Linked DNA regions of Homo sapiens: region 2 is linked to region 1. Evidence: fine-mapped expression QTL. A gene starts in region 1. The other region holds a variant in brackets. All regions are shown on one strand. Distances are between the middles of the regions.

The links.
Region 2: its variant is fine-mapped to the expression of FIBP in whole blood (INTERVAL, PIP 0.92).

Annotation. Positions count from the first base shown.
Region 1 is chr11:65,883,588-65,892,316 of GRCh38, reverse strand. It overlaps FIBP (FGF1 intracellular binding protein), which reads left to right and starts at 3,846. Exons shown (of 10, transcript NM_004214.5): 1 at 3,846-3,983; 2 at 4,185-4,383; 3 at 4,591-4,717; 4 at 5,895-5,995; 5 at 6,654-6,787; 6 at 7,131-7,239; 7 at 7,319-7,382; 8 at 7,661-7,747; 9 at 7,828-7,925; 10 at 8,274-8,577. The coding sequence starts at 3,899. The coding sequence ends at 8,343. CTSW (cathepsin W) reads right to left here. Exons shown (of 10, transcript NM_001335.4): 10 at 8,576-8,729. The coding sequence ends at 8,699. It overlaps CCDC85B (coiled-coil domain containing 85B), which reads right to left and starts at 1,644. Exons shown (of 1, transcript NM_006848.3): 1 at 682-1,644. The coding sequence starts at 1,533. The coding sequence ends at 925. It overlaps FOSL1 (FOS like 1, AP-1 transcription factor subunit), which reads left to right. Exons shown (of 4, transcript NM_005438.5): 4 at 1-268. RefSeq lists enhancers at 1-143, 184-233, 3,876-3,945, 7,171-7,230 and silencers at 1,374-1,853, 3,616-3,755.
Region 2 is chr11:65,921,074-65,936,961 of GRCh38, reverse strand. DRAP1 (DR1 associated protein 1) reads right to left here. Exons shown (of 7, transcript NM_006442.4): 7 at 15,399-15,632. The coding sequence ends at 15,527. Among named protein-coding and RNA genes, the nearest start is that of DRAP1, 9.6 kb to the right of the region's middle. RefSeq lists enhancers at 8,550-8,844, 8,559-8,988 and a cis regulatory region at 8,525-9,090. The variant A/TA (reference allele first, on the strand shown) is at 9,770.

The DNA of each region.
Region 1 (8,729 bases):
CCAAGCCTCCACAGCGAGGGCAGCTGCTATTTATTTTCCTAAAGAGAGTATTTTTATACAAACCTACCAAAATGGAATAAAAGGCTTGAAGCTGTGGCCTGAGTGCCTCACTGGACCCAGAGGCCAATGGGAGAGTATTTGGAGCCCTAGGTCCCAGCCTTAGCTCTACAGACTCACTGCATGACCTTGGACAAATTCTTTGATATTTTTGGACTTTGTCTTATCTGACAAGTGGGGCTACATCCGCTCGGCCTCATCTCCGGGACTGAGGGGAGACAGTCCTCTGGGGTAAAAGCGAAGAGGCTTACCGCCCCTCTCCCCGTGGGGGCCCACAGTGCTGCTGCGTGTGCCACGGAGGGGCGCTGTTATGCCCCCTTCCAGCCTCAGAGGAGGCGGCCGAGTGGTTCTAGGCCCCCAGCACCTGCTTCCTGCCCCATTGTCTTGGACAGGAAGGAGCCGGGAAGGGAGCTGGAGCCACTTCAGGGGCTGGATTAAGGCCGGTCCCGGCGCCCGATGGGGGAAGTCTGGTTTACCACTGCCCCGCATCCCACCCCAGGCTCGAAGTAATGGGGGAATCATTAGTTCTGCAGTCCTTCTGGATGGGAATTGTACCCTGTATCAGCACCCCACCCTCGCCCCAACCCCGGCGAGTACCAAACAGACGCTGCCCAGGCCGTGGGCTCCGCTTCCGTCCGGGTTTATTACCCCCAATCCAACCCCCAGCAAGTCCCTCCGCTCCAGCCTTCAGTCCCCCTGCTGCCCTGCCAGCAAGAGCGAGGGGCCCTTCTTGGTGTCAGGATTTCTTAGTCCATGCCAGCGGCCCCTCCTGCGCAGCCAGGACGGCGTCCAGGTCCCGAGGTCCACAGCGGTCCCGGGGCTCGGGGAGCAATCCGGGCGGGCGTCGGCGTGGAGGAAGCAGTGCCTTCAATCATCGGGGGAACAGGCCAGGGGCAACTGATCCGGACTGCCCACGCTGCCAGTGCTGGAGCTTCCATCGCCTAGGTCGCGGGGCCCGCACGGGGGCAAGGCAAGCTCGGGTGCTGGCCCGGCTCCTGATCCCCCGGCGCCGCTGGGGCCGCCGCGGGGGCCCCATTCTTCGCCCAGCGCCAGGCAGAGCTCCTTAAGCGCTAGGTTCTCCCGCAGCAGCTCCTCCTGGCGGCCCTCCAGCTCGGCCAGCTTCTGCCAACAGCCGCCCAGGTCCTCGCGCACGGCCCGGGATGCTTGGGTCCCGAAGAGCTGCCACTGGCGTGCGGCGCGCCGCCCGCGCTGGCGCTCCGAGTCCAGGAAGCAGCAGAGGTCGCGCAGCTCACGGTTCTCTGCCTGCAGACGCCGGTTGAGCTGCTTGAGCTCGCGGATCTCGCCCAGGTGGCCCTGCAGCTGCCGATTCACCTCCTGCATGAGGCGGCCGCGCTGCACCAGTGCCGCCAGGCGCGCCGCCTCCTCCCGCCGCAGGCGCCGCACTAGCTCTTCCTTGCCTAGCGCCGCCATCTCCTCGTCCGTCAGCTCCTCCAGGCCGCCTGCCTCGGCCTCCATGGCTGGTCAGGCCTCTGGAGCATCGCCCGCCCGCCGCCGCGGCCCAGGAGCCCCACGTCGGGCCCGGCGCCACTCAGGCTCGGGCTCCGGCTCCGCACGCGGCAGGCAGTGGCCGAGGCAGCGTAGGCTGCAGCAGCTACCCGGGCTGGGCACGCGGCGGGGCGCGCGCCGGGGCGGGGCCGCATGTCGTTATGGAAGGACAGCCAATCCGGTGAAACGTCCCCGGAAAGGGGCGGGGCCTGAGCTCAGGGGCCGCCCCCCTCGTTCCCCACCCACTCCGGGTGTTACTGATCCTCGATGTCAAGGAACCCGCGCGTCATCGCCCTCCACATCGGTCTCAACCCGAAACTAGGAGCTTCGAACCTCCAAGTACCGGATCGCCCCAAGCTTGAGCCTAGGCCTCTCGGCTCTTCTGAGAAACAAGATTCAGGCGTCCGCCCCTGACTCCTGCCCATCCCCCACAGAAGTCAGATGGACCGCTCTCCAGTCCCTCTTTACCTTTGATCAAATTCGGAAGTCTCGGCCCACTAAGGATCGCTCCTGGTTCCTCGGAACCCTGAGTCCAAACGTCCTAGCTCACCAATAGACTACCCTCCCTCCCAGGGAGCGTTTCCTGCCTGGGGGGAGGAACATACAGGATTCGTTTGTTCAATAAACGTTTTTTATGTGCAAGGCCCATGCAGAAATAAATTTAACCAAAATACCGATTCCATCCTCAAGGAGGTCGCAGTCTGTCCGGGAAGTCAAGCTGTGTTAAGCAAGAAATAAATCCGGGAGGAGTATGGTCTGAGGGTCCTTAAGAGGGTTCCCAAAAGAGATGCTATCCAAGAGGCTCTGGTAGATCCATAGGACTTTGCCAAGTAAAGAGCTATTTCAGGGAGAGAGAATAACATAGTGAAAGACACTGGTGCCCGAAAGAGCCTAGCTGCTTTAGGAACAATGAGGATAGCTTGGTTTTTGAAAAGCAGATGTGTCGAGAAAATGCTAAGAGAGAGAGAGCGAGGCTTCAAAGGTAGGTAAAAGCCAGATTCTTAAGAACTTCCAGTACCAGGTTGGAGCATTTCCAAAGGCCACTAAGGATGTTAAGCAAGAGAGTAACATTTGTAAGGATGTTAAGCAAGGGAGTAACATTTTAAAATATGCCTTTAACTGGCCAAGATGGTGAAACCCCGTTTCTACTAAAAATACAAAAATTAGCCGGGCGTGGTGGGAGGAGCCTGTAATCTCAGCTACTCGGGAGGCTGAGGCAGAGAACTGCTTGAACCCGGGAGGCGGAGGTTGCAGTGAGCCGAGATCGCGCCACTGCACTCCAGCCTGGGCGACAGAGCGAGACGCTGTCTCGAAAAAAAAAATGTATTTAAAAAGATTGGGCTGATCTGTGTGGGCCGGACCCTGCGGGGAGGGGACATAAACAGGGAGATTAGTAACGGTGTCAAAGAGCAAGAGCAAGGAGAGCTAAGCAGAAAGACGGCTGGGGCAGCATCAGTGGGGGTGGAGAGGACAAACAGATACTAGAAATATTCGGGAGGCAAATCAGCCGAACTGAATGTGGGGAGAGAGGAGTCTGGAAGAACGCCCAGGTTTCTCGTATGAGAACTGGTGGATGTTAGGGCTGTCACTGAGATAGGGACGCAGGAAAGAAACAAATGGGGAGAGGCAGAGGTCTGTCTAGAATATGTTGAGCTTTTGAGGGGCTTACGGGAAGAGTGTGGATAGACTTGGCCGATAGGCGGCCCCTCCGGATGTGGACTTCCAGGCAGAGCTCGGAGGGGCAGAATTAGAGACGTCAGTAGCTCGTGGGGCTGGGGGTGGGATTAAAACCAAGGTGGGAGCAGGTGCCCCAAACCCAGGAGAGGTGCTCATGCGCAGGATGGACAAACCAGTCTCCAGCAAGAGCCCGAGGAAGTCGGGTCATACCCCATTTTTGCGGAGATTTAGGATAGAGCCCTGTGAAACCCCTAAGTTTAGGATACAGGTCAAACTTAGGAGGTCCCGAAGAGGGCAGAGAAGGTGGGAGAAAAGCCAGGAGGAAGTGAGGGGAGAAGTTACGGGGACCGAGGAGACGAAGAGGAGGCACTCCCTTCGTGCTCCTGCAGACGGCCGGGGAGGGAGACAGGACGCAGGAGCCCGGGACTCCCCCTCCCGGCGGGAGGAAGCGGTGCTCCTCCGCGCAGGCCTCCCCCTCTCTTCCCTCGCCGCTCCCGCCCCGTCCCCTCCCCGACTGGCTGTGTCCCGGAAGTGGTCATAAGCTGGGTCCCGATGCCGCGAGCGGAATCTCGGCGCTCCCGGAAGTGGCCTGAAGGCGGCGCGCCAGTCCCGAGCAGTGCTCGCTCCTGCTCGGGGCGCTGCGGCCCCGGGCGTCGCCATGACCAGTGAGCTGGACATCTTCGTGGGGAACACGACCCTTATCGACGAGGACGTGTATCGCCTCTGGCTCGATGGTTACTCGGGTCCGTGAGGGGCGTGTGGGGAAGCCAGTCGGCGGAGCGGTTGTGTTGAATGGGAGAGGGGGCGGGGCTAAGACTTGGGCATCCTTTAGGGAAGTGGGCGAGCGCCTGGGAATAAGAGGTGTTATAGGGGTCTGGGATGGAAACCCTTAAGGGCCTCTGGCGTCGGCGGGGCGGGGCCTGATGCTAGCGTCCGCTTTCCAGTGACCGACGCGGTGGCCCTGCGGGTGCGCTCGGGAATCCTGGAGCAGACTGGCGCCACGGCAGCGGTGCTGCAGAGCGACACCATGGACCATTACCGCACCTTCCACATGCTCGAGCGGCTGCTGCATGCGCCGCCCAAGCTACTGCACCAGCTCATCTTCCAGATTCCGCCCTCCCGGCAGGCACTACTCATCGAGAGGTGCTCACCCTCTGGGATGGTGGAGACATCAACCAGTCTGACTGTATACCCATTTTGCCGGCTGAAACAGGCCCAGGGAGGGATGGGATTTACCCAGCCATCAGAAAGTTGAGAGTGGAAGGGGTCAGACCTAGGCCCTGCTAGGCCCCGCCAGACTCCCTTTCCTGTCTTTTATGGAGGGTCAATGGTGTTCTCTGACTCCACAAGGTACTATGCCTTTGATGAGGCCTTTGTTCGGGAGGTGCTGGGCAAGAAGCTGTCCAAAGGCACCAAGAAAGACCTGGATGACATCAGCACCAAAACAGGCATCACCCTCAAGAGCTGCCGGAGACAGGTATGCACTGCATCCACACGGACACAGCATCCCATCTACACTTCACTCCCTCCCTTTGGCCACTGGCCCAGTTCCAGCCTCTGATTGTGGCAGCAGCTTCATACCTAGTCTTCTCCTCCCTTCCCCTTTCCCCTCCTTTTTTTTTTTTTTTTTCGAGATGGAGTCTTGCTCTGTGGCCCAAGCTGGAGTGCAGTGGCGCGACCTCAGCTCACTGCAACCTCCGCCTCCTGGGTTCAGGTAATTCTTGTGCCTCAGCCTCTGCAGTAGCTGAGATTACAGGCGCCCGCTCCCACACCCAGCTAATTTTTGTATTGTTAGTAGAGACAGGGTTTCACCATGTTGGCCAGGCTTGTCTTGAACTCCTGGCCTCAAGTGATCATCCGCCTCGGCCTCCCAAAGTGCTGACATTACAGGCGTGAGCCACCGTGCCTGGCTCCCTGTTGTGCCTTCCAAGCTATCCTGTACTGTATGGCCAGAGTGACCTTTCAGAATGACCTGAAATTTTATCAGACCCCTGATAAACTTTCATTGGCTCCCACTGCCTCCTGGGTAGCAGCTGCACTCCTTGGCTTTGACCTATGGACTGTCCTGTTATCTCATCCCTGCAGACCTCTCTAGGCTTACATTTCTCCAGCCCCAGGCTTTCCTTTACTCATGTTGCTTCTACCTGGAGGGTACTGTTCTTGGCAATATCTACCCCTTGAAATCCAAGACAAGAGGTGAGATGCCACCTTCTCCACAAGCCTTTTTGGTACGCCAGGAAGAAGTAACCCTTCTGGGTCTTTGATGCCTTTCTTTTGTATCTCCTGTGAGCTTTCTGTTTATAGCTTAGCATTTGTTTTTTATTTTTTAGTTTCTAGGGCTTAGCCAGGAAAGTCTCTTCCAACTCAAACTTGTGAAGATCTGGAGAGCATGGTGCTAAAATGGGGTTGGATTTAGAGATAAGATTGAGTAAACATTTATCCAAGGCAAGATACAGCAGGAGTTGCTAAGCATTTGATTTGATAACAAGTACTAATAACTAATAGTTGGTTGAAGGAATAACAAATGCTAAATCAGCATCTGCTGACTGGATAGGTGGATGGGGAAGGGAGAGATGTTCAATAAGTGGTTTATTGGGTGAGCGACACAGTGTACACTCTGACCAGTCCTCTCTTCTACCCTAACTGCCCTGCAGTTTGACAACTTTAAACGGGTCTTCAAGGTGGTAGAGGAAATGCGGGGCTCCCTGGTGGACAATATTCAGCAACACTTCCTCCTCTCTGACCGGTTGGCCAGGTGAGGAGCTAGCCACCTCCCCATCCCGCACACTACTTCCTGGGCCCGGAGGCTCGTCCACCTTCCCTACCCCAAACCTTCTGACCTCCTGAGTATGCTGGGGGAATGATTATCCCACTTTTGGTCTGTACTTTTTTTTTTTTTTTTTTTTTAATGAGACGGAGTTTCACTCTTGTTGCCCAGGCTGGAATGCAATGGTGCAATCTTGGCTCACTGCAACCTCTGCCTCCTGGTTCAAGCAATTCTGCCTCAGCCTCCCGAGTAGCTGGGATTACAGGCTTGAGCCACCGCACCCAGCTTGGTCTGTACTTTGGACCAGACTGACCTGGATTCAAAGCACAGTCCAGCGATTTCCAGCTGGGCTGTTGAGAGGTACCATATGTAAAGCCCATGGCACAGCCCTGGCACTTAGGAAGTGCTCAGTAGATAGTAACTGTTACCCTTATGGTCTCCCACTGTATCCACTAGTAAACTTGAGCTGGAACCTTCTCTTCGCACAGATGGGGAAGGGTCATAGAGAAGTGACTTGAGACACGTCACACAGTGACTTGAGGCAGAGAGAGGCCAGAACTCGGACACCCAGCTGAGGTTGCAGGTGGGAGCTGCTTCCTAAGAAGGAATTTCAAGCCCTAAGAGGACCCTCCTCTCGTCTGTGCAGGGACTATGCAGCCATCGTCTTCTTTGCTAACAACCGCTTTGAGACAGGGAAGAAAAAACTGCAGTATCTGAGCTTCGGTGACTTTGCCTTCTGCGCTGAGCTCATGATCCAAAACTGGACCCTTGGAGCCGTCGGTGAGGCCCCCACTGACCCAGGTGCCTGGACGCCTCCCCATCCTCAGGACCTGATTCCCCACCAGTAGTTTCTCCCACAGGCCCTCAGTTCCTGGCATCCGCTCCTGTTCATGGCCCCCACCCAGGCTCCCCCTGCCCATAGAATGTTTTCCCCACACACACCTTGTCTGCAGACAAAGGGCCCATTGCCTCTCTGTGGCCTGGGGCATGTCACTCCATCTCTCTGACACTCCATTTCCTCTTTTGTCCCCAGGGGGGAAATAAGGTGGTGGGTGAGGAAAGGCTTAGGCTATCACAGGAGGGGTTTTTATCACCCACCCCCACCCCCTTCATGGCCTCACAGACTCACAGATGGATGACATGGACATGGACTTAGACAAGGAATTTCTCCAGGACTTGAAGGAGCTCAAGGTGCTAGTGGCTGACAAGGACCTTCTGGACCTGCACAAGAGGTGACCTTGTAGGGGCCCATGGGGCGGGGCCTGCAGTAGGGGCCCAGGTGGCTATAGGCGTGACCCTGTCTCTCTGCAGCCTGGTGTGCACTGCTCTCCGGGGAAAGCTGGGCGTCTTCTCTGAGATGGAAGCCAACTTCAAGGTCTGTGGTCCCATCCAGCCTCTGACCCTTGGCATCTTCAGCCTCCAGTTCGCCACCCCTACCGGGCAGCTCTGCCCCTGCCAGGGATTGGCCGGCAGGTGGCACTGCTGCTCCCTCTGGTGGCCGCTGACGGGAGCAGCTCATAAACAATGGGGACTTGGTTGATGGAGGGAGGTGGATGGATCTGGGGAGGGGCCTGCTCCTCCTCCCCCAGCTTCTGTGCTCAGCTGCCAACTTCTGGGGCAGAAAGCAGAGCTCCAAGGATCCCTGCCCCACAGAACCTGTCCCGGGGGCTGGTGAACGTGGCCGCCAAGCTGACCCACAATAAAGATGTCAGAGACCTGTTTGTGGACCTCGTGGAGAAGGTGAGCTGTCGTGCTCTCTGACACCCAACCTGGTCTGTCCCTGGCCTATACAAGTGCTAAGTATTCTCTTGGGCCCGCAGTTTGTGGAACCCTGCCGCTCCGACCACTGGCCACTCAGCGACGTGCGGTTCTTCCTGAATCAGTATTCAGCGTCTGTCCACTCCCTCGATGGCTTCCGGTGAGCAGCCCTGTCCTCCTGTCCAGCTTGGCTTTGCCCCAGCCTGCCACCTGCCAGGACCTCGCCTCCTGCAGACTCAAGGTTCCCCATTCTGCTACCCTGGGGGTGGGACCAAAGTCTCTGGACCAAAGCTCTGGCTCTCCCTCTTAGAAGCTGTGTGATTTGGGGCAGGTTTCTTAACCTCTCCATGCCTCAGTTTCCTCATGTACAAACTAGGGTTCATCATGAGAAGAATTGTAAGGATTTTCTAAGGGCAAAATGAATGAAGGTGTAGAAAGCACGCAGGGCAGGGCCTCCATCACGGTGAGTGTTGTGAAAACTCAGCTGTCACTGTTCATGTTCTTACAGACACCAGGCCCTCTGGGACCGCTACATGGGCACCCTCCGCGGCTGCCTCCTGCGCCTGTATCATGACTGAGGTGCCTCCCAACGCTCCGCCCACGCTGACAATAAAGTTGCTCTGAGTTTGGAGACTGGTCCTCGCTCCGGGGAGCAAGTGGGGGGCGTGCAGATGTGCCTGTGTCTGTCTCTGAGCACCTGGTGTCCGTGTACAAGGATGGATGTGTACAGTGGCTCCTTGGGAACTGAGACATATCTCAGGGAATGGTGTCTGTGCTCAGCCCATCCACCAGAAGAGTCTGCTCACAAGCCAGAGGTCTTGTCTTGGTTTATTCAGGCTGTATTGAGATTGGGAGGATGGGCAAAAACCTGGGGGTGGGGCTGGCAAGGAGGCAGTTGGCCTAACAGGACAGAGCTGAGGGGGCCAGGTGGGTTCAGGGAGGGCAGGAGACTCGGGGCTTCATA
Region 2 (15,888 bases), 41 kb before region 1:
ACTTTGGGAGGTCAAGGTAGGTGGATTGCTGGAGTTCAGGAGTTGGAGACCAGCCTGAGAAACATGGTGAAACCCCAGCTCCACAAAAATATACAAAGAAATTAGCTGGGCATGGTGGCGTGTCCCTGTAGTTCCAGCTACTCGGGAGGCTGAGGCGGGAGGATCACCTGCGCCCAGGAGGTTGAGGCTGCAATGAGCTATGATCACACCACTGCACTCCAGTCTGGGTGACAGAGTGAAACCCTGTCTCAAGAAAAACATAAAAAATAAAACTAAGTATAAAAATAAATAAATGGTATTGTATGTATTTAATTTGCATAAGCAGTATTGATCTCATTTTTGTTCCTTACTCGTTTCCTTCAAAACTGTGCTTTAGGGTTTTTAAAATTTATTTTATTTTCTAGAGATAAGGCCTCACTCTGTCACCCAGGCTGGAGTGCAGTGGTGTGATTATAGCTCACTGCAGCCTCGAACTCCTGGGCTCAGGTGATCCTCTACCACAACCACAACGTCCTGAGTAGCTTGGACTACAGGCATGTGCCACCATGCCTGGCTACTTTAAAAAAAAATTAGTTTTGGAGAGACAGAGGTCTCACTATGCTGCCTAGGCTAATCTTGAACTCCTGGCCTCAAGGACTCCTCCCGCTTAAGCCTACTCAAAATGCTAGAATCAGGCTGGGCAAGGTGGCTTATGCATGTAATCCCAGCACTTTGGGAGGCCGAGGCAGGTGGATTACTTGAGGTCAGGAGTTCAAGACAAGCCTGGCCATCACTGTGAAATCCCGTCTCTACTAAAAATACAAAAATTAGTCGGGCATGGTGGCACACACCTGTAGTCCCAGCTAACTCAGGAGGCTGAAGCAGGAGAATCACTTGAACCCAGGCAGAGGTTGCAGCTAGCTGAGATCACACTACTGCACTCCAGCCTGGGTGACAGAACAAGACTCCATCTCAGAAATAAATAAATAAATAAATAAAAGCTGGAATTAGGCTGGGCGCGGTGGCTCACGCCTGTAATCCCAGCACTTTGGGAGGCCGAAGAGGGAGGATCACGAGGTCAGGAGATTGAGACCATCTTAGCTAACATGGTGAAACCCCGTCTCTACTAAAAATACAAAAAATTAGCCGGGCATGGTGGCGGGCGCCTGTAGTCCCAGCTACTCGGGAGGCTCAGGCCAGAGAATGGCGTGAACCCGGGAGGCAGAGCTTGTAGTGAGCCAAGATCATGCCACTGCACTCCAGCCTGGGCAACAGAGCGAGACTCCTTCTCAAAAAAAAAAAAAAAAAGCTGGAATTATAGGCATGAATCACCATGCCCCATCGTTTTGTTTTTAGAGACAAGGTCTCATATTGCCCAGGCTGGCCTCAAACTCCTGGGGTCAAGAGATCCTCCCGCCTCAGCATCCCAAGTATCTGGGATTATGGGCACATGCCACCCTCCGCTGCTAACACTGTGGTTTTTGTTTTTGTTTTTTGTTTTTTGATTTTTTTTTTTTTTGAGACAGAGTCTCGCTTTGTTGCCCAGGCTGGAGTGCAGTGGTGCAATCTTAGCTCGCTGCAACCTCCACCTCCCGGGCTCAAGCAATTCTCCTGCCTCAGCCTCCCAAGTAGCTGGGATTACAGACTTGCGTTACCATACCCAGCTAATTTTTGTATTTATTTTTTAGTAGAGACCAGGTTTCACCATGTTGGCCAGGCTGGTCTTGAACTGCTGACCTCAGGTGATCCGCCCGTCTCGGCCTCCCAAAGTGCTGGGAATACAGGCGTGAGCCACTGTGCCTGGCCCGCACTGTGTTTTAAAAGCCTTGTAGATCCTGACTGTTGCATAGTGTTCCGTAGTTTCCCTTTGTATGCTTTACTTAATTCATCCTTCTGACAATGGATGCCAGACTGGCTCCCAAGTCCTGTTCTCACAAAGAACACCGTGGTCAACACCGCTGCACATGCCTCTTTGTACACCTGAATGAGAATCTCTCTGGCCTACTTATCCAAGGCTGAGAGTGTAAGGTCTTGGCATAAACATACACCTAATTTCAGATTGCTTGAGAGAAGGGCTGTCAGTTTATGTGCCTACAGAAGACCAAGGATTTCTGTCTGCCCACATTCTCACCAAACATTGACATTATTCACCTTATGAATTTTGACTAACCCTGGGGTCATAAAATGAGGTCTGGTACTTTTTTTTTTTTTTCGAGACGGATTCTCGCTCTCTCGCTCTGTTACCCAGACTGGAGTGCAGTTGTGCAATCTCAGCTCACTGCAACCTCCACCACCCACGTTCAAAACAATTATCCTGCCTCAGCCTCCCGAGTAGCTGGGATTACAGGTATGTGCCACCACGACTGGCTAATTTTTGTAAAGATGGGGTTTCACCATGTTGGCCAGGCTGCCCTCGAACTCCTGACCTCAAGTGATTCACCCACCTTGGCCTCCCAAAGTGCTGGGATTACAGGTGTGAGCCACCGTGCCTGGCCAGAAATCCTTAATCTTTTTTTAAGTCTGGTAAAAAAAAAATCTTTAATTTTGATGGAGTTAGACTCATAAATGTTTTTGAATAGAGCTTTGTATTTTGAGAGTCTTTCTTTTCCTATCCCTAGGTGGGGTATTTTCCTATATTCTATTCTATTAGTTTACGCTTAACATCTGTGTCCATAACGAAATGCTCTGTGTACAGACTTTTCTGATACTGTCTTTATCTGGCTTGCGGGGGTCATACAAGAAATTGGGCAGCCTTCTCTCTTTCTGGCTTCTGTAACAACTGGTGTGAGATAAGGACCATCTGTTCCTCCAAAGGCTGGTAGAACTGCCCTATAAAAACATTTCTATTGGGTTTTTTCACATTGGAGTCTCAGATTACAAGTTTCTTTTTCTTTTAGTTTTTTTTTTTTTTTTTTTTTTGAGATGGAGTCTTGCTCTGTCGCCCAGGCTGGAGTGCAGTAGAGTGATCTCGGCTCACTGCAACCTCCACCTCCCAGGTTCAAGTGATTCTCGTGCCTCAGCCTCCCAAGTAGCTGGGATTACAGGCATGTGCCACCACATCCGGGTAATTTTTGTATTTTTAGTAGAGACAGAGTTTCACCATGTTGGCCAGGCTGGTCTCGAACTCCCAACCTCAGGTGATCTGCCTGCCTTAGCCTCCCAAAGTACTAAGATTATAGGCGTGAGCCACTGTGCCCGGCCTATTGTAGTGTTGTTGTTGTTGTTGTTTTCCCAAGAGACAGGGTCTCGCTATGTTTCCCAGGCTGATTTTATATTCCTCGCCTCAAATGATCCTTCTGCCTTAGCCTCCCAAAGTGCTGAGGTTAGGACGGGTGCAGTGGCTCACACCTGTAATCCCAGCACTTCGGAAGGCTTAGCCAGGTGGATCACCTGAGGTCAGGAGTTCGAGACCAGCCTGGCCAACGTGGTGAAACTCTGTCTCTACTAAAAATACAAAAAAATTAGCTGGGCGTGGTGGCTGGCGCCTTTAATCCCAGCTACTCGGAAGGCTGAGGCAGGAGAATCGCTTGAAAATGGGAGGCAGGGGTTGCAGTGAGCCGAGATTGCGCCACCACACTCCAGCCTGGGCAATAAGAGTGAGACTCCATCTCAAAAACAAAATAAAACAAAGTGCTGAGGTCACAGGCATGAGCTACTCAATTTTCTTTCCTGGTTATGGGTCTACTGAAGTTTTGATATTTTTGTGCCAATTTTGACATTTCACATTCTTCCAGAAAGGTATTTACTTTGCTTAAGTTTCTATATTTACCAACATACAATTATTTGTAATGTTTTTTGGTATTTTGATATTTTATGTTATTTGGAAATGGGGTTTTGCTATGTTGCTCAGACTGGACTCAAATTCCTGGGCTAGAACGATCCTATTGAGTAGCTGGGACTACAGGTGTGTGCCACTGTGCCCAGGTTGGTATTTTGATATTTTAAACCTCCATGGGGGGCTGGGCACGGTGGCTCACACCTGTAATCCTAGCACTTTAGGATGCCGAGTTGGGCAGATCGCTTGAGGTCAGAGGTTTGAGATCAGCCTGGCCAACATGGTGAAACCCCGTCTCTACTAAAAAAATACAAAACAATTAGCCAAGTATGGTGGCACACACCTGTAGTCCCAGCTACTCGGAAGGCTGAGGCTCAAGAATCACTTGAACCCGGGAGGCAGAGGTTGCAGCAAGCTGAGATCGCGTCATTGTATTCCAGCCTGGGCGACAGAGTGAGACTCCGCCTCAAAAAAATAAATAAATAAACCTCCATGGGGGGGTGCTCAAGAGTCAGATCACGTGGGGCCTGGGAGCCAGGGAAAGGATTCTGGGTTTGTCCTAAGGATGAACAGCGTGCAAGAATATTTGACTGAGGCTCTAGAATGGAATGGATATGAAATGCCAAAGTGAAGTGCTTGCTCCTGGCCAAACTGCAAAATTTTAAAGAAAGCAGAAACCCATGTTGCCACTGTCGAAGCCCCTCATCCACCGCAAGAGTATAAAGGGATCGAGGGTGGATTTGAAAGGGGCAGTTTGCGGTGATTTGATTTGGAAAGAGCTGCTATGGCAGTGAGTCTGCAGGGGGTGGAGCTGGGGAGCTGCCTTCTAACCTCAAATCTGGTGAGAAGTGCTTCAAGGAAGCCCCCCAGAGCGCTTGAGGTGGGCTTCCTGCAGTCATGGCACCCCCGTGGGTCATTGGTAGGAAAGGCCTCCAGAAAGGAGGTGACCTGCAGTGGGCACTGGACCGCAGGAATGGAAAAAGGGGTCTGGCCCCACGGGCTTGTTTTCTCTGGCACAGGGTATGCAACAGAGTGGGGTAGTGCATGCCACTTGAAAGAAAACCAGAGCCAGTCAACAGAGAGGGGCTGCCCCTTTGCCAGGAGTTTCAGTCAAGGGGGTAGTACATAAGGGAGCCCATAAAACCCCTGAGGGCAGGAGCCAGCTTTAGACAGCTGCCACCCAAGGAGTGAGATGCCATCTTACACCAGTGTCAATCCAGGATGCACTCTCTGCACCCACTGCCCTCCCTCCCTGTTCTCCAAAGGCAGCGTCTTCTCAAGCCTGGGAATGGGGCCAGGGAGAGGCGCAGACCCGACTTCCCTGACTCCTTATCAGTGGGGGCTGCAATGGCCAGAAGTGGAAAAAGCTGTGTTCGTTTTTTTTGTTTGTTTGTTTGTTTGTTTGTTTGTTTTGAGACAAGCTCTCGCTCTGTTGCCCAGGCTTGAGTGCAGTGGTGCTATCTTGGGTCCCTGCAGCCTCAAACTCAAGCGATCCCTGCAGCCTCAGCCTCACGACCAGCTGGGACTACAGGTGCGTACTACCACGCCCAGCCCAAGAATACTTCATTCTAAATCAAGTTCTGGGATTTGGCCACTACACAAAACTGGGCACTTTAATAGAGATTTGTTTAGTAACTTTAGGTGATCACAGGACGATGAGGAAATGGCAGCATAAGATGTAATGGCTGCACTCCCTCTGGCTGTGAGTAGAAATTAGACTGGAGGGCCTGGGGTGGAAACAGTGGCCTGTCATCCAGGAAGTGGGAGGGGAGGGGAAGGGAGGGGAAGGGAGGGCAGGGGAGAGGTCTGAGCCTGGGCCCACCACCATTCAGAGGTCAAGAGAGGTCAGGGAGATGTGGCCATGGAGACAAGACCACAGCCCACGGTGGGGAAGAAGATTGCCAAGAGAGGCCGGGCGCGGTGGCTCACGCCTGTAATCCCAGCACTTTAGGAGGATGAGGCGGCGGATCACAAGGTCAGAAGATCGAGACCATCCTGGCTCATACGGTGAAACCCCGTCTCTAGTAAAAATAAAAAAAATTAGCCATGCGTGGTGGCGGGCGCCTGTAGTCCCAGCTACTCGGGAGGCTGAGGCAGGAGAATGGTGTGGACCCGGGAGGCGGAGCTTGTAGTGAGCCGAGATGGCGCCACTGCACTCCAGCCTGGGTGAGAGTGCGAGACTCCGTCTCAAAAAAAAAAAAAGATTGCCAAGAGAGTGAGGGCCCCCATCCAAGTGAAGAAAGTGTTTCAAAGAGGAGGCAAGCGACCAACTATGACAAGAGCCACTGAGAGGTCAAGGCGAGCCCAAATGAGAACAACTGAATCGCCTGGACCCATTCTCCAAGGACTCATTGTGGGAGGCTTATTACAGGCTTTGGCTGTGCGAATGCGGCTGAGATTGGCCTTCACCACATCACACCGCAGGCCCCATCTGAAACTGTTCTTTTGCAGCTAAAGTCTAGGAAAAAATTTCTTTCCACTGAAGAAGTTTTCTCCGGAAAAAAAAAAAAAAGTTTTTTGCTTTGGCTGCCAGAAAGCTCAGAACTAAATTTGATATTGAATTAATAAAGCACTTTTACAGGCCTTTATGGGTTGCATATTTATATATGTATGCTATTGTTTCTGATCTTTATTTTCTCTTTTAATTATATTTTATTATTTTATTTAAAAAATTTTTTAATAATTTTTTTAGAGACAGGGTCTCACTATGTTGCCTAGGCTGGTATCAAACTCCTGGCCTCAAGTGATCCTCCTGCCTTGGCCTCCCAAAGTGCTGGGATTATGGTGTGAGCCATCCCATGTGGCCTAAATTTTTTTTTTTTTTTTTTTTTTCAGATAGAGTTTCGCTTTGTCACCAGGCTGGAGTGCAGTGGCACGATCTTGGCTCACTACAACCTCCATCTCCCGAGTTCAAGAGATTCTGCTGCCTCAGCCTCCCGAGTACCTGGGGCTGCAGGCGTGCACCACCACACCCAGCTAATTTTTGTATTTTTAGTAGAGACAGGGTTTCACCATGTTGGTCAGGATGGTCTCGATCTCTTGACCTCGTGATCCGCCCTCCTCAGCCTCCCAAAGTGCTGGGATTACAGGCATGAGCCACCACACCCGGCCTAAAATTTTTTGTTTTTAGAGATAAGATCTTGCTATGTTGCCCAGTCTGGACTCACATTCCTGGTCTCAAGTGATCCTCCCTCCTCGGGCCTCCAGAGTAGCTGGGAGTGCACCACTGGTAGCACGGGTGTATACCACTGCACCCATCCACATTCTTGAATCTCCATTTCTGTTTTTTAAATTTTACCTTCCTTGTTCTTGTTGGAAGCCACCTCAGGTGCACTGGGAATGTGGTTTGCAAATTAATCAATGGTATTTCATTTATTCGGCAAGCATACAATGATGTCTTGTAGTAGTCAGGTCTCTCTAGCATACAATTGGCCTAAATACATTATTAAAGATAAAAATAAATGTCTTCACCCATTCTCTGTTGCTTATAACAGAAAACCTGGAACTGGGTAATTTATTTAAAAAACGGAGTCTTGCTCTATCGCCCAGGCTGGAGTGCAGTGGTGCGATCTCGGCTCACTACAACCTCCACTGCCCAGGTTCTCGCAATTCTGCAGCCTCAGCCTCCTGAGTAGCTGGGATTACAGGCACCCACCACCACATCCAGCTAATTTTTGTATTTTTAGTAGAGATGGGGTTTTGCCATGTTGGCCAGGCTTGTCTTGAACTCCTGATCCCAGGTGATCTGCCTGCCTCAGCGTTCCAAAGTCCTGGGATTACAGGCGTGAGCGATTGCACCCGGCCACATGTGCTGTCTTGAGTCTCACGGCCACCCCTGACCAATGGCTGTGGGGAGGGTATCTTGACCAGCGGTCCTGGAGGTGCCACCTGGTTGGAGTGGGGTGGGCGTCAGTTCTCTAGGGATACGGATATGATTTGGGGTGGCCTGAAGGAAGAAGGGCAGGGCAGACCCATGCACAAAAACATGCCCACCACGTACCTACCACGTGCCAGGCCCTGTGAGACATCCTGGAGACACAGACGTGAATCCGACAGGCCCTGTGTCCCCAAGAGGGGCGCTTTCCAGAAGTGGAGGTGAAACCTGCAAGCACAGTTATCCCAGCCAGAGCATGGGAAGAAACTTGGAGAGGGGACAGGTGAAGGACTTGGGGAGTTCAAAGGATGAGGAGGGACTCTAGGTTCTGGCCTTGAGGAAGTAAGGTGAACTGAAATTGCCCTTTTTCTACAAACAGCTAAGAAACTGGACAAAGCACAGGAAACAAGTGTTTTCAGATATTAGACAAAGGGCAGCTCAGGGCTGTGATCCCTGAAAAACGGAAGATAAAGGGGAGGAGCCCTGACATTGCATAGGTGATTTTCCTACCACTGCACTGGGAGGGCAACCGTTGTTCTCACCGAGTTAAGAAGACGAGACCAGAGTTTGGGAAGGCTCATCTTCAGGGCTTCTGATCTAACTGAAGACAGGCCCAGATATGGGTATTTTAAAGTTCCCCAGGGTCGGCCGGGCACAGTGGCTCAGGCCTGTAATCCCAGCACTTTGGGAGGCCGAGGCGGGTGGATCACTTAAGGTCAGGAGTTTGAGACCAGCCTGGTCAACATGGTGAGAACTTGTCTCTACTAAAAATACAAAAAATTGCCAGGCGTGGTGGCGAGTAGCCTCCCCAGCTACTGGGGAGACTGAGGCAGAAAGGAGAATCACTTGAACCTGGGAGGCAGAGGTTGCAGTGAGCCAAGATCGCGCCACTTCACTCCAGTCTGGGAGACAGAATGAGACCCTGTCTCAAAAAAAAAAAAAAGAAAAAAAGAAAAAAAAGCTCCCCAGGGTTCTAAGATGTAGCCAGGGTTGAGAACCACTAGGCTAATCTGCAACTCCAGACAAAGGCGGAAGGGGGGCAGGGAACCCACAAAACAGAAACCAAACTCTAAGAAAACGGGTAAGAGGAAAGTGAAACCGACTCTGGGCACCAGGCTGGAATGGAAGAGCATCTGTGGCTAAAAACAGGGCAGCCGCACCCCCCTGGAGGAACCAGGGCCCTGCCCACCCACTTGCTTGCTGCGGCTTCAACACGCTGGCCTCCTCGGGGTCCCCTCTCCCCACTACCCCTGGAGAGGCGTGAATGTACCTATTTGTTTACCATCAGTCTGCTGCCCCTTCCCCCAACTGGACTGAGCTAGGGAGCAGAGGCTCTGTGTGTTTTCTCTGAGTTCACCTTCCCCAAGCCCAGAGCAGGGCCCGGCACAGAGTAGGTACTCAGCAAATATTTCTTGAGTGACTGAATGAAGACAATGTATGATCCCATGAATCCTGCAGGGCCATGCTTTACCCTGCCCTATGTGATGCTGTCCCCTGAGGTTGGGCCCATTCTGACAATGTCTTTTCTGTTTTTTCAACACAGGGTGCATAGAATCAAGCAGACATGCGCCTTAGTTTGGGGCACTCCATGCAGCCATAGGGCCCTGAAAAGCTTCCCTTTTCTTTTCTTTTTTGTTTGTTTGTTTGTTTGTTTGAGATGGAGTTTCGTTCCTGTTGCCCAGGTTGGAGTCCCATGGCACGATCTTGGCTCACCGCAACCTCCGCCTCCCGGGTTCAAGCAATTCTCCTGCCTCAGCCTCCCGAGTAGCTGGGATTACAGGCATGCGCCACCATGTCCGGCTAATTTTGTATTTTTAGTAGAGATGGGGTGTCTCCATGATGGTCAGGCTGGTCTGGAACTCCCAACCTCAGGTGATCCGCCCACCTTGGCTGCCCAAAGTGCTGGGATTACAGGCTTGAGCCACCACACCCAGCCTAAAGCTTCCCCTTTCAATGGACTCTCCCCTTCCCTGCATCCCAGTCCTACTCCTGCTGCTTTGAGCCACGACATCCCCTTGTCTGTTTAGTACATGCCCTTCCAATCTGCTTTCCAGGATCTTATTTCCATAAATGTCCATAACAGCAGGCACCATTTATTGGGTGCTTACTGTATGCCAGGCACTGTGCTGAGCGACTTACAT[A/TA]TCATATCTCATGAAACCATCACATGTCCCTGAAGGAGGTGCTATTATGATCCCCGTTTTACAGATTAGAAAATAGAGATAGGCTGGGCAAGGTGGCTCACGCCTGTAATCCCAGCACTTTGGGGGGCCGAGGCGGGCGGATCACCTGAAGTCAGGAGTTTGAAACCAGCCTGACCAACATGAAGAAACCCTGTCTCTACTAAAAACAATACAAAATTAGCCGGGTGTGGTGGCGTATGCCTGTAATCCCAGCTACTCGGGAGGCTGAAGCAGGAGAATCGCTTGAACCTGAGAGGCGGAGGTTGTGGTGAGCCGAGATAGCACCACTGCTCTCCAGCCTGGGTGACAAGAGAGAAACTCCGCCTCAAAAAAAGAAAAGAAAACAGAGGTAGAGGCCAGGTGGGGTGGCTCATGCCTGTAATCCCAGCACTTTGGGAAGCTGAGGAGGGTGGATCACTTGAGGTCAGGAGTTTGAGACCAGCCTGGGCAACAAAGTGAGATCCCATGTCTCAAAAAATATATATATACATATATATATGTGTGTACATATATATACACACACATACACACACACACATATATATACACACATATATAGGCACACACATATACATATAAAAATACATATATTTGTGTATATAGAGACATATACATATATATTTGTATCTATACGGTCTCGTCCATGTTCTGGAGCCGAGCATCCCTGTAACTTGGAAGGAATGGCCTCAGGTGTGGCGGGATAGGTTGTTAACTTCACCTCTCCATGCCCTGTTCCACACACACACCTGTGTTTAAGTCCAGACCCACCCTAATCAAAGGCCCTGTACCAAAAAGGGGAGGGACCAGACCCGTGGTGGAGGGTCTGGATCACAAGTACCATTCCCTTGCCTTTCTTTTATTTATTTATAAAAGAAAACAGGCCAGGCACGGTGGCTCATGCCTGTAATCCCAGCACTTTGGGAGGCCGAGGCTGACGGATCACTTGAGATCAGGAATTTGAGACCAGCCTGGCCAACATGGCTAAACCCTGTCTCTACTAAAAACACAAAAATTAGCCGGGCATGGCGGCACGCACCTGTAGTCCCAGCTACTCAGGAGGTTGAGGCAGGAGAATCGCTTGAACCTGGGAGGTGGAGGTTGCAGTGAGCCAAGACTGCTCCACTGCACTCCAGCCTGGGCGACAGAGAGAGAGATTGTCTCAAAAAAATGAAAAGAAAAAGAAAAAAGAAAACAGAGGTAGAGACAGCTTAAAGTCACTTGTCCAAGGTAACAGAGTAAGTGGCAGAAATGCCGTATAAAGGATTCTCATGTATGTCTGCGTTTTTTGTTTCTTGTTCTCTATTTGACTATTTGTCACTCAGCACTCTGCATTTAAGCTCTATCCCTGTTGCCTTCTGCCCAGGCAGTTCTCCATTGATGGACACTGATTTTTCTGCCACCTCAAACCATGCCTAGGACACATCTCTCTGCTTGTGAGAGGTTTAACCCAGGAGTGGACCTGCCAGGGGACACACAACTGCCAAAATGCCCTTTCAAACATCCCCACTAACTTACATGCCTACCAAATGCCAGAATTCCATTCACTGGCATCCTCACTAGCAACAGGTTTTATCCGGTTTTCAGTTTTATCTGATGGGCATTGTGTGGGATCCTGTTTTTCTTTGCAGCTCTCTGATTACTGGCAAAAATCTTAGTCCTTATTCCATTTTTTAAAACGACATTTGAACACACAATAGGAAAAATGGGATTTCAGAATAGAAATAGTTCACTCTGATGATGGGAGGTGGCAGTCACATAGCCCTGTCACTCTCCGGATACAAGGAGCCCCCCGAGAAAGTCCAGACCCACTCTCATCAAAGGCCCTGCACCAAAGAGGGGAGGGACCAGGCCCCTGGTAGATTGTCCAGAGCACGGGTGCCAGTCCCCTGCCTCAGGGCCCATAGCCTAATTGAGTGGGAATTTGGTCGTGTCTATGTCCTGGAGCCAAGTGTCCCTGCTCCAGAGAAAGGGATGGCCCTCGGGTGTGTATTGGGGGTTAAGCTGTTAACTCCACCTCTCCAAGTCCTGGACGACATACATGCCTAGACCAAACCCCTGCCTACCTCTGGGCCACTATGTCACTTCTAGAGCCTCAGTCTCCTCATCCATAAGGTGGGGGTATGAGGACATCTCTCCTAGAGGAGGGCTCGGGGGTGCAGGGAAACTGATGGTGGCCTCACACCTGACAAGCACAGAGCAACGTGCTGCTGCAACGCCTCCTGCCTCCCATCAACCACGGGGGAGGCATCCGCAGACCTATTTCATGGCTGTGGAGGGCAAAGCCCAGAGAGGGAAAGGGGAAATCAAGAGATCCCATAGCACGTCAGCTCCCTGACCAGGCCAGGGATGAGGCTGGGAGAGGACGAGCAGGTTCACTCAGTCATTCAACTCTCCTTCCCCTTCTGCCTCCTTCCCCAGCCTCTGGGGCCCCAGGTCCAGCAGCACCCAGGGCAGGGGTGTGGTAGGTGCCCCATGCTTCTTCCTTCTCCCTTTGCACCAAGCTTCTCAGGCCCAAGGGGCTGTCAGTGCCACAAGGACACCTCCCAGCTAAGGTGGGCTGAGTCCAGAGCTGGTGGCCCCTGAGTCAGGCCCTGGGTGGTGGCTGACGCAGTGGGAGCAGAGGAGACCACAGGGAAACTGACAGATTAAATCCAATTCTCCCAGACTTTGCCCTTGCTGTTCCCTCTCCCTGGAGCCCTCTCCCCACGGAAGGCTGTGAGCCCGCCCACTCCATGCTCACTGTCACCAGAGTCTTGCCTGAACTCAGTTAAGAATGCTGGCCCCCCAAAGCTGGGTGTTGTGGCTCATGCCTGTAATCCCAGCACTTTGGGAGGCCGAGGCAGGCACATCACAAAGTCAGGAGTTTGAGACCAGCCTGGCCAATATGGTGAAACCTCGTCTCTACTAAAAATACAAAAAATTAGCTGGGCGTGGTGGCAGGCACCTGTAATCCCAGCTACTCGGGAGGCTGAGGCAGGAGAATCGCTTGAACCCAGGAAGTGGAGATTGCAGTGAGCTGAGATCGTGCCACTGCACTCCAGCCTGGGAGACACAGCGAGACTCCGTCTCTAAAAAAAAAAAAAAAAAGGATGCAGGCCTCCCTTATCACCCTGGATCGCCTGTTTTGCTTTATTTATTTTCCCCACAGCATGGATCACCATCCGACATGCGATTCATCTTTTATTTTTTGAGACGAAGTTTCGCTTTTGTTGCCCAGGCTGGAGTGCAATGGCACAATCTTGGCTCACTGCAACCTCCGCCTCCCGGGTCCAAGCGATTCTCCTGCCTCAGCCTCCCGTGTAGCTGGGATTACAGGCGTCTGCCACCACACCCGGCTAATTTTTTGTATTTTTAGTACAGACGAGGTTTCACCATGTTGGTCAGGCTGGTCTCGAACTCTTGACCTCAGGCGATCCACCCGTCTCACCCTCCCAAAGTGCTGGGATTACAGGTGTGAGCCACCATGACTGGCATGATACATCTTTATTGTCTGTCTCACCACTTCAGAAATAAACTCCAAGAACATTTTGTTCACTTGATCGCTACTACCTAGAACAGTGTCTGGTGTGCAATAGGGTCTCAATAGATAGATAAAGATTAAGTAAAACTTTTAGGAAGGTATCAAAGAAGTGCACCAATCTTCAGTGTACAGCTTAATCGTTTTATACATAACCCAGGTCAAGTTGAAGAACACTTCCAGAAGGCTCCCTGTACCCGACCCCCAGCCAATCCCCACCCCTTATGGATGTACTGACTTCCATCACTGTTGATTAGTTTTTCCTGTTCCTGAGCTTGGCTTAAATGAATTACATCAGGGTGTACTCTTTTTCATTTTTACTAATTAATTTTTGAGGCAGGGTCTCACTCTGTCGCCCAGGCTGGAGTGCAGTGGAGCAATCTCAGCTCACTGCAGCCTCTACCTCCTGGGTTAAAGCCATCCTCCCACCTCAGCCTCCTGAGTAGCTGGGATTATAGGCGGGCCCCACTATGCCCAGCTAATGTCTGTATTTTTCTGTAGAGACAGGGTCTCACTATGTTACCTAAGCTGGTCTTGAACTCCTGAGCTCAAGCGATCTGCCCACCTTGGCTTCCCAAAGTGCTGGGACTACAAGTGTGAGCCACTGCACCTGGCCCATGTACTTTTTTGTTTGGCTTCTTTTGCTCCACGTAAGGTCTACAAGATCTACCCAGGGAGTTGCATTGACAGTGGTTCCTTTTACTGCTGTTCTATCATACAACATTCCACCATTTACTTATTCCTGCTCTTGCTGATGGGCATTTGAGCTGTTTCCAGTTTGGGGCTACAGGCTTGTACATGTCTTCCAGTGGCCCTATGCCACCATCTCTCTTGGTAGCTACCTAGGAGTGGAATTGCTGGGTCATAGGGGAAGTGTGTGTGTTAATAAGAAACTGCTGAACGGTTTTCCGAAGTGGTTGTACTTACTGACATTTCCACCAGCTGTGTATGAGTGCCGTGTAGCCTCTTCCTCTGCAGTACTTGGGGATGTCAGACTCTTTTTCTTTGAGATGGAGTTTTGCTCCTGTTGCCCAGGCTGGAGTGCAGTGGTGCAATCATGGCTCACTGCTGCCTGGAACTCCTGTCCCAGCCTCCCAAGCAGCTGGAACCATAGGCATATGCCACCATGCCAGCAGACCTTTAAAACTGAATGCCTTGCGGGCTCCAGGAGGCCCCATGTGGGCCACCTGCGCCCTCCCCAGCCTCACCGAGTACCTCTGCTTTACAGGCAGCACAGCTCCTGGGTCTGCTCTGAAAGGTTATCTGGATGAACAGACTGTGTCACTGCCCTGCTCAAAAACCACCTTCAAGACCCTCCACCATCTCTCTATGTTTGCTCCTTTCCACCTGCCCTTCACTACACTGGACACAGGACTCTACAGTTTCCAAGACCTGTACCTGTTCCCTGTCCCACTTATCCCTTCACAGCAGACTACAGGGGGCAGAACAGTCTCCATCAGAGAGACAAGGGGCTGCTCAGAGCAGGGCAGCAGCCCGCCGGGGGTCAGCAGCCCACCGGGGGTCAGCAGCACCACGTGGCAAGTGTCCCCCGCATGCCCAGCACTTGCAAGCTCTCCCAACTCCCTTCTGTCCGCAGCTGTGGTGCACTCAGCAGACCCAGGGCCTCCAGCCTCCCCGGATGACCCCTCTCTCCCCTCGCTGCCACCTCACCTGCCACTGACGCGGCCCCAGCTCCCAGTTTCTTTTTTTTTTTTTTTTGACATGGAGTCTCACTCTGCTGCCCAGGTTGGAGTGCAGTGGCGTGATCTCAGCTCACTGCCACCTCCACCTCCCAGGTTCAAGCGATTCTCCTGCCTCAGCCTCCCTAGTAGCTGGGATTACAGGCATGCACCACCACACCCAGCTAATTTTTGTATTTTTAGTAGAGACGGGGTTTCACCATGTTGGCCAGGCTGGTCTTGAACTCTTGACCTCAGGTGATCTGCCCGCCTCAGCCTCCCAAAGTGTTGGGATTACAGGCGTGAGCCACCGCACCCGGCCCCAGCTCCCAGTTTCATGTGGGGAAGGCAGGTGGGTGGATGGGATGGCAACCATGACGTCCTGCGCAGAGCCTGGAACAGACACTGAGATTCCCTTTTATTTTTTTTTTTAATAAATTTAAGAACAGCTCTACCTTCTCTCCTCCCCCCAGAGCAACTAAAACCAACTAAAAGGGGCTATGGTCTGGGGGGCAGAAGGCGCTAGGAGTCGTAATCTTCTTCGTCCTCTTCATCAGGTGCTGAGGGGCCCGGGGGCGCTGGGGGCAAAGGCAGAGTAGAGGCGAAGGGCAGGAAGGGTGTCGGGGGGCTGCAGGGCAGAAGGCAGGAGAGAGTCAGGCCTGAGCCCCACCGTGCCCTCCACAGGGGCAGCTGCCAAGACCCTCCCTCCCCCATCTGACCCTCCCACCACCACCCTCCAGATCCATGCGGCCAAGGCCCAGGGCAGCTCACGCAGGGCAGGCCCAGGCCCCACCCACGGGCCCTGGCAGGGTGGAGCAGGATCTTTCGGGAGAACAGTCTCCTGCCTTCAAGCCCTCCTCAGTTATTCTCCTTCCACCCCACAA